Linked DNA regions of Homo sapiens: regions 1, 2 and 4 are each linked to region 3. Evidence: fine-mapped expression QTL. A gene starts in region 3. Each other region holds a variant in brackets. All regions are shown on one strand. Distances are from middle to middle. Region 1 has its middle 28 kb from the start of ABR-AS1. Region 2 overlaps ABR (ABR activator of RhoGEF and GTPase). Region 3 holds the start of ABR (ABR activator of RhoGEF and GTPase). Region 4 overlaps ABR (ABR activator of RhoGEF and GTPase).

Region 1 (4,000 bases), 29 kb after region 3:
AAAATTAGCTGGGAATGGTGGCAGGCGCCTGTAATCCCAGCTACTCAGGAGGCTGAGCCAGGAGAATTGCTTGAACTCGGGAGGTGGAAGTTGCAGTGAGCCGAGATGGCGCCAGTACACTCCAGCCTGGGCAACATGAGCGAAACTCCGTCTCAAAAAAAAAAAAAAAAAGAGAAGTGGGGGAAAAAAGGAAACTGTTGGAATCACAGACCTTATGACTTTGTAATTCCTTGCACAGCCTCTCTTAGAAGATCAGTAACTTTGTTTTTTGTTTGTTTGTTGTTTTGTTTTTGAGACAGAGTCTCGCTCTGTTGCCCAGGCTGGAGTGCAGAGGTGCGATCTCGGCTCACTGCAACCTCCGCCTCCCGGGTTCAAGCGATTCTCCTGCCTCAGCCTCCCGAGTAGCTGGGATTACAAGGCGCCTGCCACTGCACCAGCCTAATTTTTGTATTTTTAGTAGAGATGGGGTTTCACCATGTTGGCCAGGATGGTCTCAAACTCCCGACCTCAGGTGATCCACCCGCTTCGGCCTCCCAAAGTGCTGGGATTACAGGCCGGAGCCACCGCACCTGTCCAGATCAACCACTTTGGGGCCATTGATATCAGAGATGGCCTCCCTGCTCTTGTCTAGGAATGAGGGTGTAGCAGACCCATTGAGTTATGAGTGTTTATAAAAGAGAAGTTGCTCGACCCCCAGATGAGTCCCTGGGTGGAAAGGAAATGGTGGATACTAGAACTTGTTCTTCCTGGCCTTCCTGGGCAACTGACACACAGGAGGCAGCTCTGCCTGTGACCCGAAGGAACTAGGTGTCAGGAGCAGCAACGCAGGGCACCCCAGTGTGAAGTGCCCTTGGCCAGCTGAGGAATTGACATTCTCCTCTCCAGGAACAGCAGCAGCATGTGCTGCGTCTCGATCGGGTGATTCCCACACCATCACTGCATGCCACGGTCCCCTGTCAGCCTGTGAAGAACCAGTCTCAGAGCCACATCTGTGGCAGAGAAGTCCTTGCTACTAATGAGATTCGAGTTCTCTGCTAACGTCGCGGTAGAGAAGTGCTGACCACTGCTCCCTTGTTGACTCTGTAAGGGAGAGGTTCAAGAGGGAGCTGCCGGCCGGGCACAGTGGCTCACGCCTCTTATCCCAGCACTTTGGGAGGCCGAGGCGGGCGGATCACGAGGTCGGGAGATCGAAACCATCCTGGCTAACACGGTGAAACCCCATCTCTACTAAAAATACAAAAAATTAGCCGGGTGTGGTGGCGGGCGCCTGTAGTCCCAGCTACTCGGGAGGCTGAGGCAGGAGAATGGCATGAACCCGGGAGGTGGAGCTTGCAGTGAGCCGAGATCATGCCACTGCGCTCCAGCCTGGGTGAGAGTGTGAGACTCCGTCTCAAAAAAAAAAAAAAAAAGCCTGCTTTGTGCCTGCCAAGTCAGTTAAAGACGGCAAGTGCTTAGTATGGGTCTCTCTTGTACATACATGTATGTAGTGAACACCTGTTTGCTAGCCTAGTACCACAGTTACACTGAAGGCTCCTGAAGCAGAATTTTGAACTCTTTCCCTTGGTTCACTGCTCGGCTCAATGCAGGTGCCAATAAAGTTTGCCTTCATGGTGCCTGAATCCCTTTCTTCCGGATGGAGTTCATGGGAGCTTGGAATTGATAGAGTTCATGGGAGCCTGGAACTTACAGTCATAAAATCAGACATACAGTGTTTTACTCTCTGCAGCTGCGTTGAAGTGGGTGGTGTTTTATTGTTCACATCCTTCTCTTTTAACCTGTTTGTTTCTTTCTTTTTTTTTTTGAGACCGTCTTACTCTGTCCTTCAGGCTGGAGTGCAGTGGTGTGATCTCGGCTCACCGCAACCTCCACCTCCTGGGTTCAAGCCATTTTCCTGCCTCAGCCTCCCAAGTAGCTGGGATTACAGGCATGCGCCACCACGCCTAGCTAATTTTTGTATTTTTAATAGAGACAGGGTTTTGCCATGTTGGCCAGGCTGGTCTCGAACTCCTGGACTAAGGTGATTCACCTGTCTCGGCCTCCCAGTGAGCCACCATGCTCAGCCAAAGTTTGCTTGAATGGTGCCTGAATCCCTTTCTTCCAGATAGAGTTTATGGTAGCCCAGAACTGACCTCTCGTGGTCATAAAATCAGACATACAATGCCTTACTCTCTGCACCTGCTTTGAAGTGGGTGGTGTTTTATTGTCCACATCCTTCTCTCTTAACTTTCTAATACTTGGTGACGTGGACACCCCACACACATACGAGTTACACATATACATAG[A/G]TAATTATACTGTTTTGTTGACCTTTTTCATTGAGCAGTTTGGAGGTATAATCACTCTAAATTTTCTGCAGCAATTCTTTTAAGCACTGGAAAAAGTTGCATTTATCAAAGTCCAGCAGGTATCCCCAGTTATTTACAAATTCAGCAAATTTACGAATCACAACAAAGCTGCCATCTTAACTCCACGATGATCTTTGCTGCTGAAGAAAACAGATACATATGCCAAAGTGCCTTCAGAACCTCCAACAAATTAAAAAAAGAAAACACATATCTTTCATGGCAAAGACACCTAAATTAGTAAAGCACTAAATTAGTGACGGCTGATCTCTTAGAGAGACAGGGAGAAAGTAGAGGTAGAAAGTAACAGAATCTAGAGAGGCGGAAGCTCAGCCCAGCTGTGTTGGTACTGTGGGGGCTGTCACTTTTTACCTGCGTAGAAAGTTCTGACCTAAGCCGGGCGCCGTGGCTCACACCTGTAATCCCAACTCTTTGGGAGGCCGAGGTGGGTGAATCACCTGAGGTCAAGAGTTCAAGACCAGCCTGGCCAACATGGTGAAACCCCATCTCTGCTACCCAGCTTCTCCGCACTATCGTCCACGTTATCACTCAGCTTCTCTGCACTATCGTCCAGGTGTCACTCAGTTTCTCCATGCTGTTGTCCGCGTATCACTCAGCTTGTCTGCACTATCGTCCAGGTGTCACTCAGCTTCTCTGCACTATCGTCCAGGTGTCACTCAGTTTCTCCATGCTATTGTCCGCGTATCACTCAGCTTGTCTGCACTATCGTCCAGGTGTCACTCAGCTTCTCTGCACTATCGTCCAGGTGTCACTCAGCTTTCTGCTATTGTGTTTGCTCTCAAGCCAAAAATCACTTTGGGCTGTTTCCTCTCTCTCTGCTTCCTGGCTCCTAACACAAAAGGATTACTTTATCACTTTATCAACCAACTGGCAACTCCTATCTACTCACACACAAACTCAAAAGGGCTTTTTCCTCCATGCTTTGCTTAGACCAACCTTAGCCTCTTAAGGACATTTAGAACCGTATTTTTGCATCCTTTTAACATCAACCTGTAGGGCCAGATGGACGGAAAGGGCCCTATATTTTAAAGGTGCCAGACATTTACCACCTCATATCAAGCACTTGGCAAAGCCTGCCAAACTCTGGGGTGCTGGACTGGCTGCTGAAAAATCTCCCGAGCTTGTTAAAAACAGAGATTCCTGGCCGAGCGTGGTGGCTCACGCCTATAATCCCAGCACTTTGGGAGGCCAAGGCGGACGGATCATGAGGTCAGGAGTTTGAGACCAGCCTGTCCAATATGGTGAAACCCCGTCTCTACTAAAAAATACAAAAATTAGCCAGGCGTGGTGGCAGACGCCCATAGTCCCAGCTACTCAGGAGGCTGAGGCAGGAGAATTGCTTGAGCCCAGGAGGCAGAGGTTGCAGTGAGCAGAAATCTCTCCACTTCTTTCCAGCCTGGGCGACAGAGTGAGGCTCCGTCTCAAAAAAATGAATAAATAAATAAATAAATAAATAAATAATGAAAAATAAATAAAAATATGGATTCCAGGTTTTGCTCTGACCCAGTGGGATTCCATTTCAGTGGAGCTAGCCACCAAAAATCGATCTTCTTCTGCTGTTCCTGCAGAGGTGTCTGACTTGCAGTCAGTCCTTATCTAAATTATTCCAGGTCCTGTGGCAGGTGCTTAGAAAACAAAGC
Region 2 (4,000 bases), 72 kb before region 3:
ACGCCTTGTGAGGGAAGATCACGCCTTGTTCCTCTTGTCATCTCTACAGTGCCAGGCAGGGTGCTCTGAAGAGCACCTAACCTGAGAGTGTTTGTTGAATGAATCCAGGAGCTTTCTTCCCACCGCTCTGTGGCCACCTGCTTGTCTTCTCCCTCTGAGGCCAATGCCGGTAGAGGAGGGAGGAATTCTAGAGGTGTTCAGGATGGAGCAGGGAGCCTGGAACTCCCCGGCATTCGAGAAAGGTCTCCTTCCCCCATGCTGGCAGCAAAGTAGAGGGGAAGACACCATCCCGGTGCTCACGGGGACCCAGGAGGAGCAGCGTTTTCAGGTGTGACACGTGCTCAGGCTCTCTTGGCATCCGTGGGCCACCGCCGTACACAGCAGGACACCTCTGAGATGGAGCGAGGCTGGGAACCTGGTGCACCCTTCGTGGGCCCCAGCGGGCCTCACACATTGTGCAGACTCTCACAGGCACCAGCCCCACACCAAGCACTGTGCAGTGTTCAGCAATGAATATGACATGGTCCTGGTCCTCCAGGAGAATGGGATATAATTGCGGAGGCAAATGTCTAGAGTTCTGAGCATCTGAGCAGAATGAAATACGGGCTTAGCTGAGGCATACGCCGGGGTCCAGCAGAAGGGGAGGTCCAGGAGGCAGCCTCTGAGTGGGCCCACATCTGTGCTGGGGGCTTCCCAGAGGAGGCCCATGAGGGCCACACACCTCCCATCCCAGCATTGCTACTCCCAGCCTGACTCCTGGCTCAGGAGCAGACTTTCCCACCCTGTTCCTAGTGGGGAGGCTGGTCAGACCCTAAGTGCAGAGGCCTCCCTGAGCCCACGGGGAGACGTGACTTACCCCCACGGCCCTACGCCAGCACCAGATCAGAGAAGACAGGGTGGGGTGCCAGCCACTGCCAGCCTCCCTACAGCTCCACTCCCCACCCAGGCCTGCAGCCACCGCTCCACCCATACTCACACATCAGCCATCTCCCGTGGTTCTGCATCTATTTTTACCTCCATTGGCTCCTCCTCAGAGCCACACTGTAGAGTGGGTGGGGCAGGACTGTGATCCCCATCTTCTGTGAGGGGCAGGGAGGCCCAGAGAGGTTCAGGGACAGCCTCCCGTCCCCAGCAATGCTGGCTGCACATGCCTTCTAGGCCCCGCCGATGGGCACTCGGTTAGGCAGCCTCGCCTAGCAGTCTGCAAACTCCCCGAAACGCATCCTCACTGGGCCTCCCTTCTCGACACAGAACCAGAGAGCAGCTGAGCAAAAGGCTGAGGTGGAAGCTCTGAGAGGTGTGTCCAGGAGAGAAAAAGGAAGACCGCTGTGGTGTGCCGGGCCAGACTCACAGAGCCGGCGTGGTTCCGGGGCCGCCCCGCTCCTCAAGGGATTCTGGCCACCACTGCCCTCCAGTTCCACCGGGAGCCAACCTCTCCTACAGGACGGGTCACTGCTGCAGAGAACGCCGTCAGCCCCAGAGCGGGTGGGCCAGGGCCCAGCAGATGCTCCCTGCCTGTCCCGCCTCGGGAAGGGCACCTGCCCACCTGGCTGCAGCCTCCAAGCCAGCTGTTCCCTCCCCCCTTCAGCTGACCCAGTGCTTTTCCTTCAAGGAAGCTCAGTGACCTCTGGCTCTTGCCCTTTGCAAACACCCTCTTGCCTCAGCTCGGAGACACCAAGTCCCTGTCTCCTGGCTGGGAAGAGGGTGGCCCCTCTCTTGCGGTTGCCGTGGAAACGGGGGATTCCTGCCCACCCGCTCCAGGGAGGCGGCGAGGCTCGGGCTGACAGGCGCGCCAGGTGACTCCTGGCACAGCCGCCGGAGCCCTGAGCTGGGCTGGCCTGGAGGGGGCGGCCACCACTGCCCCGAGGACACCGGTCGGGGAGGCAGGCCCGCCCCTCTCCCCCGGGAACAGCTGCCGGGGCCGGGACCCTCCGCCGAGGGCTTCCACCCGGCCGCGCGCTCTGCGCCCGCATCAGCCATTTCTCCCGCGCACCTTCGGCAGCGCCGGCCCGGCCCCCCCCAGCGCCCAGGGCGTGTCACGCTCCCACCTTCACAGCCACCAGGAAGGGGGACCCTGAGCCGGGGCTGGTCGGGGTTCCCAGCTCGCACTCCTCCAGGAGAAACACATCTTCGTCCTCCAGAACCTTGTCCAGCAAGCCTATCGCCTCCTCTTCCTCCTCCATGGCAGCCGGAGCCCGCGGAGGGCAGACAGGAAGCGGGGTCCACGCAGCGGCGGCGGGAGGAGGGAGGAGGGAGGAGGCGGGCGGGAGGGGGGGCAGGTCTACACCCGCGCGCCCGGCCTGGGGCTCCCGACCCGGGAC[T/C]GCATCCCGGACCTAGTCCAGCCCGCTCCGCCGCCGCCGCCGCCGCCTCGCGCGTCCTCGCCCGGCGAAAGGGGGAGCAAGGCCCGGGCAGCCCCTGACGCCGTGCCCGGCCCGTGGCGGAGGCGAACCCGCCGCACAGCAGCCCAGCGCCCTCCTCCGTGTCCCGCCCGGCCCCGCAGGGCCCGCCCTTCCCGGGCTCCGGGGCTCGGGCTCGCGCTCGCTCCGAACACACAGGAAACGCGCGTCGCGAGGTGGAGCCGCCCGTCCTCTGGGGTTGCGGGGCCGCGGCTGGCGGAGGCTTCTGCGGCGGAGGAGGAGCGAGGAGGCCGCGGCCGGGCCGGGGTGGGGTGGAGCGGGGAGGCCGCTTCCCAGACGCATCTTCATTCCCCGCGCGCGGCCGAGCCAGGAGCCCGGCGAGCAGGGGCGACCCCCAGAGCCACCCCGGAGTCCCCATGCGCCGGAGCCCCCTTCCGGAGGGGAGGCCCCGGCCCGCCCAGAAGCCACAGCCGCGTCCCGCCGCCGCTGGAGGAGTCAGGCTTTGCAACAGACAGGCCTGACCTGCCCCCAGGCAGGAGCGCGGCGCCACCACTGTCCTGCACAGGAGCGGTGGGCGTCCCACTCACAGGGACCAGGATCCCCCTCCTCCAAGCAGCCCCCCTCCTCCGAGCAGTCCCCCCACTCACGGACGCTACTGACACCAGCACCCCCACCTCCTCTGAGCAGCCCCCCCACTCACAGACCAGCCCCCCTACTCACAGGCGCTGCAGAGACCAGGACCCCCACCTCCTCTGAGCAGCCTCCCACCTACTCACAGGCACTGCTGAGACCAGCACCCCCACCTCCTCCAAGCAGCCCCCCCAGCCACCCCACCGCAGGGAGCCATCCTGCAAGGGGAGTGCACACAGAACCCAGGACAGGCACCATCTCCGGCCCTGCCCACTCCCAGCCAGCTTCCCCTGGCTTCTCCAATGGTTGCAGAACCCCCAACTGTGCAGGGAGTGAGGCCACATTCTGGTCCCCCTGGCCCTAGTTCCCAGATGCACATACACCTCCTTCCATGGGAGGAGGAGTCCAGAGGAGGCCCTGGGAAAAGCTCTTTTACAACCCAACGATGGAGCAAAGGTTGCAAACGGCACCCATGAGGGTGCGGGTGAGGCCTGCGGGTGAGGCCAGCCGGTGAAGCGAGCCAGGTAGGGCAGGGTGAAACCACCACTCACTCCAGCCGATGGCTGCTGGAGGAAACGCAAGCTCATGGCTGCCTGATCTCTGTTCAAAATAAGCTAAAATCTGGCTTATTAACAGGAATGCTCCTGATTTTAAAACGATGGCAAATAATTAACATTTTAAAACAACATGGTGCCGTCTAAATGAACCACACCTGTGGCCCGAGTTCAGGCCACAGCCCCCCACTCCCCCCAGAATTCTTCAGAAGCTCTGGGCTCTAGGTGGGGCTCATGCAATTCCATTGGCAGCAGAGAAGCTGCCCTCCCTGGAGAGAGGCTCCATCCTGTTGCAGAGCTGAAATACAGAGCAGGGGATTGCGGGGTGAGCCCTTGAGGGGCCCCAGGGCTAACAGCCTTTGATCAGGGAACTGTGCCACCAGGGTTCAACAGAGGCACACCCCCACCCCACCCATCTCCTTCCAGCCCCTGGTTTTCCCCTGTCCCTGCCTGGGTGGG
Region 3 (4,000 bases):
ACTAAAAATACAAAAAATTAGCCGAGAGTGGTGGTGGGTACCTGTAATCCCAGCTACTCAGGAGGCTGAGGCGGGAGAATCACTTGAACCCGGGAGGCAGAGGTTGCAATGAGCGGAGATTGCGCCACTGCACTCCAGCCTGGGCGACAGAGCCGAGACTCCGTCTCAAAAAAAAAAAAAAAGAAAGAAAACGCTCCTGTTCCATGGCATCCAGTGCCTAGAATCAGGCTGAACCAGGCTCCACGTGGCCCCACGTGCCTCCCCCAACTCCTGCCTGGGAGATGTGCTGAGAGAGTGGGAGGGTCCCACTCACGTGGGCCAGGAAGGGCGAAATCCACTATGTAAGCCCAGGAGGACCCTCTTCCTAATCCCTGAGAGCTTTCGGGAAAGGTGTCTCAGGGAAGGGTGGGGAGAAGGGGCGGTGCCTTTCTAGCAACGGAGCAGGAGCAAGGTGCGGTGGTGGGGGCGGGGGGCGGCTCTCGGTTCGCCCCAAGCCCCCCCACACCATTACCCGTGATCAGTTACGCATCCCCCGGGGCCATGCAAGAGCAATCACATGATCCAGAGAGATTTGGGAGCGAGGGGGTGGAGAACTCGAGAAGGTTTGTTTTTTTTTTCTTCTGAGGGTGGTGGTGATGATGAGGGTGGGGGTGGTGATGAGGCTGGCAGGAAAGATTGCTGAGCCCGGGATTTTCAGCTCCCGCATCCAAACGGCCCCCGCGGATATCTGCACCCCCCGTCTCCCCTCCCACCCGATCCCACCCCAGCACCGAACCCCTGGGCCCTGAACCACACATGACCCGGTGCCCCTGGGGTGGCAAACTCGGGTGCCAACGACTGCTCCCAAAACGGCCTTTCGGCTTCAGCCTGGACAGAGAAGCTGCCGGTCCAGGGGCGGGGGCAGCACCCAGAAGGGCCTCCCTCCCCTGAGGCTCGCGGAGGCCGGGTTCACAACAGGTGGGAGGGGGGACGCAGCTCTCGGCTCGGTCCGCCCACGGTCCCCGCCCCCGGACCGCAGGAATCCTCTCTGGGGACCCCCCGCCCGCGCCCCCCAGACCAGCCCGGCTCCTGGGTCCCGACCCCGATCCCGATTCCCAACCCGACCCCGATCCGGACCCCGATCTCGCCCCCGCCCGCGCTCCCCGGACCAGCCCGGTGCCTGGGTCCCGATCCCGATCTTGGGGTCCCGATCCCGATCCTGGGGTCCCGATCTCCATCCTGGGGTCCCGATCCCGATCCTGGGGTCCCGCCCCCGCCCGGCACACGTACTGCTGTAGAGGGTGTCGATCCAGGACAGGCGCGGCAGGCCCCGGTGGCTGAGCGGCTCCATCCCGCGGCGGCGGCTCGGTCAGATCCGAAACCCGACCCTCATCGCGCAACAAAGGAGGGAGAGCGGGCGGGAGCCGGGGGAGGCCGAAGTTGCGAGCGCGGAGGGGCGAGGAGGCCGGGAACCAGGTCCCCGGGAGGAGCGCGGGGCGGCCGGGGCAGGGGCGAGGGCGGGGCGGGAGCCCCCAAAACCCTCCCGAACCCTCCCGGCCCCAGCGGCCGCGCCGAGCCCAGCTGCGGATCCCGGAACCGATGAGCAACTTCGCGGGGGGCGGGGCGGGGGTGGGGCTTCGTGGTGGGGCGGGGCTTTGGTGCGGGGGCGGGGCTTTGGTGCGGGGGCGGGGCGGGGAGGGACCAATCGGCTCGAGGCTCCGCCCTCCGCAGGACGCCCCCGGCCGGGCTAAGGGGGCAGCGGGGCTCCGGCGCTGGGCGAGGAGGGGCCGCGGGGGTCTCGGGGGGTCTCCAGGCGGCGGCGCAGACCCAGGTCCCCCTCGTCCCCCCCGCGCCGGGCTCAGCAGGATCCTGGCGATCCGCAAACCAGGTGCCGTGGGGGGCCCGGGAGCCCACAGGGGTGACATCACCTCCCGCCCGGGATCTCCAAGCGCGGCTTCGCGGGCGGGAGCGGCGGCCGGGCCCCTCCCCAGCCAGACCCGCTGCGGGACCCACGGGGTGAACGTCCTGCGCGCCGCGGGACGCGCCTCTCTCCTCCCGAACCTTCCCCCGCTCGTCCCTTTCCACACCCCTGACCTCTGAGCGCGGCCGTTCCCGCCACACATGGAGGGGGGCGGGTGGAGACCCGGGAGGACCGAAGTCACGGGGGCTGTGGGGCCAGGACAGTCCCACATGTGCCCCTCCTGGGCGGAGGACAAACTGGAGCCAGGAGAAGCCCCAAGGGCTCCACGCGTTCCCCTCCAGGACCCCTCCTGGGGACCCCGAGCCGCGGCCTGGAAAGCCCATCGTGTTTGCATCATCACCTAGAAATGGTGGGAAGTCGGGTCAAGAGGCCTGAGAAATGACCGTTTAGAGACGAAATTCCCTCTAAGGAAGACCCCCTCGCCCAAGGGCAGTGAAGAGATTGGGGGCCCCATGCCTGTCTCCTGTGGGCTGATTCTGTGGGAGCCATGGCAGCTTCCCCACAGACCTCTTTGGGCCAAGCGACCCTGGAGCAGGGAAGGACAGGAGGGGAGTCAGGCCAGGGGGGTCCAGGGCAGTGGGGCTGAAGCCCCTTCCTGAACCCAGGGAAAGGGAAGCAGTGGGGCCCACCCAGGGGGCCCGGTACCCCAGATAGTGACATTTCAGATACCGGAGCTGTCTCCACCCCACCCCATCCCCAGGCAGCTTAAGGGGAAAACTTCTGGGAGCCCAGCCCTACAGAGGCCTACCAGGAAGGTTAAGTCAGCCTGGCCTTTGCCGGGGGCAGTGTGGTCGGCACCCGCAGAACGCTGGAGGGGTGTGGGGGTCGGTCCTCATCACTCCAAACAGACACACACACATCTAGTTCTTAAGGGGAGAAGCAGCTCCTCCCCCAGGATGCTGAGAGGAAGCCCCATAAGCTGCTTGGGCAGAGGCCTCTGCAGCTGCCCCAGGGGAGATGGGGGTCACCCACTCATCACAGGCTGGGGAGCCCCTGGGAGACGCACAGGATGATGCTCTGGGTGGGGAAGCCTCTACAGGTGGCTGCAGCAGAAGTGGTTTTCAATATTATTAGCCCGTCCCTGCGTCCCCAGGGCTCCCTCCGCCCCAATCCTCCTGGCTCAGGCACCAGCGCTGTCTCTTGCCGCCCCTCCCTGCAGCTGTCACCCTCCCACCGTCCCTGACTAGCACACAGGATTGGGAGGGCCAAGCAGGCACCTGGAGCTTGGCAGGGAGGGGGCGTGCATCTCCAATGAGACGCTCCAGAAATAGAGCTTCGGCATGGGAAGGGAACGAGCAGGCTCTCGGAGGACCGCGAGGCCGGAGGAGCCATGAGGGGCCAAGGGCATCTCTTCTTCCCACCTGGAACTCTCGGAAGACAGCCCAGGGGAAAGGTGGAAACGGGCGTGAGCTGCCGCCACCAGGAGCCACCAGCCCAGGAGGCAGCAGCACCGTCCCCTCCTCAAAACAACAACAAGCAAGAACGCTCGGGCCCTCTCCCCACACTGTGGGGTTTTCCTGATGGCCACATCCGGCGCTGACTGTGAGGGAGCTATGGATGTATGCTTCTGCGTGAGTCACATACATTTGCGTACATTTTACATTTTTATCTACAAAGGCTTGAACAAGCTATTTTCAGCATCCTCCAAGCTAAAATGTGGCAGTTGCTTTCCTTCGCGTTGCCATAGTTTGCTTTTTTCTGTCTACATTCTGTCCAATCCTGGCACTCTCGGACCCTCCACTCCACAACACGATAGAGGGTAGAGGGAGAGACAAATCTTGAGGGCTCTACAGAGGAAACTTCTGATAACGAACACAGAACACCGACTGTGTGCCCGGCTTAGCGTTTCGTTCACTAGCGTGATCTCACCGTGAATGTCACTGTTATCTCTGTTTTCTCCATTTTCCAGGTCAGAAAACCGAGGCCCTGAGCAGCTGAGTAACCCACTCAGAGGGTAAGTGAGGGCTGGGACTTGAACCCTGGCACTCTGTTCATGCTCTTTTTCTGTTTGTTTGTTTGTTTGTTTTTGAGACAGAGTCT
Region 4 (4,000 bases), 79 kb before region 3:
CAAAAGAACACAGACAGGCCGGGCGCAGTGGCTCATGCCTGTAATCCCAGCACTTTGGGAGGCCAAGGCGGGCAGATCACCTGAGGTCAGGAGTTGGAAACCAGCCTGGCCAACATGATAAAATCCTGTCTCTACTAAATACAAAAATTAGCCAGGACTGGTGGCGTGCACGTGCAATTCCAGCCACTCGGGAGGCTGAGGCAGGAGAATCACTTGAACCCGGGAGGCAGAGGTTGCAGTGAGCCGAGATCGCACCACTGCACTCCAGCCTGGGTGACAAGAGCAAAGCTCCGTCTTAAAAAAAAAAAAAAAAAAAAAAAGAACACAGCCTCCCACCTCATATTTCCTGACACGGGGCCTCAGGATGGCACTAACGGTTCCCTCACCCAGGGAGGTAGAAGGACTTGGACACAAGACGGCAGAGACTTCTTAACTGGATTGATTGGGAATGACTGCCCAGAGCACAGCGTGGAGAAGGCGCTCGGCCCCCGCCCAGGCAGGCAGAGCACCATGATGGGTTCACGATGCCCTATGCCAGGGTCGTGGGTGACAGGTGTGTTTGCCATCTCTAAGCCGGGTGTGCTTCTCCTGCCTTTTGAGAGCTGGAGCTGAGAGGCACAGGCCCTTTCTGGCAATGACCCGGGCTGCCCGATGCCCAGCCAGAAGCAGACCAGCTGCAGACTCTGTCCACAGGGAGGGACGGGTACGGTCCCCTTTCCTCTCCAACTCCAAAAGCAGCTTCAGAGCATGACATCACCCAACACGGGCGGGGGGACCGGAAGGCCCCAGAGCAGGGACTGTACTCACCAGCAACAGGGCTTCCAGCTGGTTAATGTAGATCTCTTCGCTGGCCAAGAACCCCGAGAGAACCAGCTTCCTCATCTCCAGGCCTTTCCCTGCTTCCACCTGCACAAACGCAAAGCACAGCCAACAGCTCATGAGCAAGGAGGCCAAAACCCTGCGTGGACGGTCTGCTTCCCTGCCCTTCCCCCCCGACCTTTATTTTTTTTTTGAGACGAAGTCTCGCTCTGTCACCTAGGCTGAAGTAAAGTGGCACAATCTCGGCTCACTGCAACCTCCGCCTCCCGGGTTCCAGTGATTCCCCTGCCTCAGCCTCCCGAGTAGCTGGGATTACAGGCACCTGCCACCATGCCCAGATAATTTTTGTATTTTTAGTAGAGATGGGGTTTCACCATGTTGGCCAGGCTGATATAGAACTCCTGACCTCAGGTGATCCACCCACCTCAGCCTCCCAAAGTGCTGGGATTACAGGTGTGAGCCACCATGCCCAGCCATTATGCCAGACTAATTTTTTTTGTATTTTTAGTAGAGATGGGGTTTCACCATGTTGGCCAGGCTGGTATAGAACTCCTGACCTCAGGTGATCCGTCCGCCTCAGCCTCCCAAAGTGCTGGGATTACAGGCGTGAGCCACCGCGCCCGGCCCCCCTTTCCCCTTTCCTTTTATTTTAAGCGACACTTTCATAGGGGATAAAAGTCAGATATTATTATAAAAAATATACAAAACATGCAGAAATATAAAAGGAAAAGACAATCACCCATATTCCTCCTGTAACATCTCGTTTTGCTTCCCTCAATCTATTTTCCACCTGGGTTCTCGAACCGACTTTTCCTCCCTCTCTTCCTCTCCTCCTGCCTGTCCCACACACCAGAGCTGGATTCAACTCCTAAGAGTGCCACCTTGCCCGATGCTTGCCAAGGACCGAGTATGAATACCGCAAAACGCGAGTACTTGGGGATTCCACTGGGCTATGTGTCCATTTATTTATTCATTCAATAAATATTTACTGAATGTCCACCAGGCCCTATAGATACCATGGGAAACAGACAGTGGCCCCTGTTCTCAAGTGGCTTAGACTCTAGTGGGAAAGACATTTATTTTTTCTTTTTTTTTTTTTTTTAGAGACGGAGTCTCGCTCTGTCGCCCAGGCTAGAGTGCAGTGGCGCGATCTCGGCTCACTGCAAGCTCCGCCTCCCGGGTTCACGCCATTCTCCTGCCTCAGCCTCCCGAGTAGCTGGGACTACAGGCTCCCGCCACCACGCCCAGCTAACTTTTTGTATTTTTAGTAGAGCCGGGATTTCACCGTGTTAGCC[A/G]GGATGGTCTCGATCTCCTGACCTCGTGATCCGCCCGCCTTGGCCTCCCAAAGTGCTGGGATTACAGGTGTGAGCCACCGCACCCTGCCGGAAAGACATTTAAAAAACAAGTAAAGATTCGGCCCTAGACTGGGACATGGGGCCCACCATATCCTTTATGAGCCACCTGCAGTGGCCCGGATGCCCGTCCCTACCCTTCCAGTCTTTCCCACAGCCAGGACATCGCTCAGTCTCCCCCACACGCAGGAGAACCAGCCTCCTCATCTTCAAAGGTCTCTAGCTTTCGGTTCGTTCTTTACCTGCTGCCTAAAATGCCATCTTTCCCTGAGGCATCGTGGCCACAGAAGGGGAGTGAGAGGGCCGGGGAGACAGGGTAGTGGTGAGGGACTGCTTGGAAGATGCTACACTGGTAGGTTTGAAGACAGAGGATGGGGCCACGAGCTAAGGAATGCAGAGAGCCTTTGGAAGCTGGAAATGGCAATAAAATGAACTCACTCCCCTAGAGCAGGGGCTTCCGATCTTTTGGCTCCCCTGAGCCACACTGGAAGAAGACGACTGTCTTGGGCCACACATAAAATACAATAACACTAACGACAGCAGATGAACTAAAAGAAAAATATATAATGTTTTAAGAGTTTACAAATTTGTGTCGGGCCACATTCAAAGCAGTCCTGGGCCGTATGGCCGCAGGCTGGAAAAGCTTGCCCTAGAGCTTCCAGAAGCAATGCAGCCCTGGAGATCCTTTTTATTTTAATTAATCTATTTATTTATGTATTTACTTATTGAGACAAAGTCTCCCTCTGTCGCCCAGGGCTGGAGTGCAATGGCATGATCTCAGCTCACTGCAACCTCTGCCTCCCAGGTTCAAGCGATTCTCCTGCCTCAGCCTCCCGAGTACCTGGGATTACAGGCGTCCACCATCACACCCACTAATTTTTGTATTTTTAGTAGAGATGGGGTTTCACCATGTTGGCCAGGCTCGTCTCAAACTCCTGACCTCAGGTGATGCGCCCGCCTCGGCCTCCCAAAGTGCTGGGATTACAGGTGTGAGCCATGGAGCCGGGCCGAGATCCTTTTTAGATTTCTGTATAAGAGAATAAATTTGTGTGGTTTTAAGCCCTTAAGTTTGTGGCGATTTGTTTCAGCAGCATTAGAAAAGCAAGACAGACCCCACGCTTCAGGCAAGGGCAATAGTTACTTATTGGCGGCTTCACAAATTCCAGGAACTGAGCTTAGCTATCTTTGTGGTTCAATTCACCGGAGTCTCAAAACCTGGCAGGTGTTATCATCTTCCTGAGGCACCGAGAGTCGGGACTGCCAGAGGCCTGCACAGCCTCCAGCACACGTAGCCCCGGGGGACAAGATCAGAGCCTGGAACAGCCCCCAGCTCCAGCCCCTCCAGGTCAGACCCTCAGGGGTCTTCCTGCTGCTTCCCAGCCTTGACAAATGGGAACTCATCCCCTGTGCTGGGGGCTAGCACTCCCTCCTGTTCCCTGCCAACCAAGGTTTTGCCTGAGGGTTTAGCAAATGCCACACCGTGAGCTGTAACTGTAGAGCTGGTTGGACTAGGATGGGGGGAAGAAAGGGATTTGCAGCCCCAGCCACAAACAAGCTTCATCCCCCCTGGCACGAGCATAGACCCTGGAAGCCCTGTAATCGCCCATTTCTGCAAGATCCTCCCCTCAAGACTTCCATTCATAGTCCACTCTTGAAAGGCTGGTTCTGATGGGAAGACAACTCAGGAAGACCCTCCCTCAAGAGGCAACAGTCAGCCCCAAGAGTCCTGCTCTGGGCCCCGTTCACGCTGCAGTTTTGGCTGAGATTGGAGCAAAGGCGTTGGAGAGCGTACGGATGGGAAATTAGCCTCGGTGCACTTGGCTAACAGG

Evidence for each region. PIP is the estimated chance that this variant, and not a neighbour inherited with it, causes the effect.
Region 1: its variant is fine-mapped to the expression of ABR in whole blood (TOPMed, PIP 0.96).
Region 2: its variant is fine-mapped to the expression of ABR in whole blood (TOPMed, PIP above 0.99).
Region 4: its variant is fine-mapped to the expression of ABR in whole blood (INTERVAL, PIP above 0.99).

The regions. Positions count from the first base shown.
Region 1 is chr17:1,207,496-1,211,495 of GRCh38, forward strand. It overlaps a transcript of ABR not described here. Among named protein-coding and RNA genes, the nearest start is that of ABR-AS1, 28 kb to the left of the region's middle. The variant A/G (reference allele first, on the strand shown) is at 2,283.
Region 2 is chr17:1,106,886-1,110,885 of GRCh38, forward strand. The region is part of intron 2 of ABR (ABR activator of RhoGEF and GTPase); the gene reads right to left. Among named protein-coding and RNA genes, the nearest start is that of ABR, 71 kb to the right of the region's middle. The variant T/C (reference allele first, on the strand shown) is at 2,322.
Region 3 is chr17:1,178,398-1,182,397 of GRCh38, forward strand. ABR (ABR activator of RhoGEF and GTPase) reads right to left here and starts at 1,584. Exons shown (of 23, transcript NM_021962.5): 1 at 1,270-1,584. The coding sequence starts at 1,330. ABR-AS1 (ABR antisense RNA 1) reads left to right here and starts at 3,230. Exons shown (of 3, transcript NR_187271.1): 1 at 3,230-3,531; 2 at 3,870-3,914. RefSeq lists an enhancer at 1,625-2,391.
Region 4 is chr17:1,099,830-1,103,829 of GRCh38, forward strand. ABR (ABR activator of RhoGEF and GTPase) reads right to left here. Exons shown (of 23, transcript NM_021962.5): 3 at 808-906. Among named protein-coding and RNA genes, the nearest start is that of ABR, 78 kb to the right of the region's middle. The variant A/G (reference allele first, on the strand shown) is at 2,115.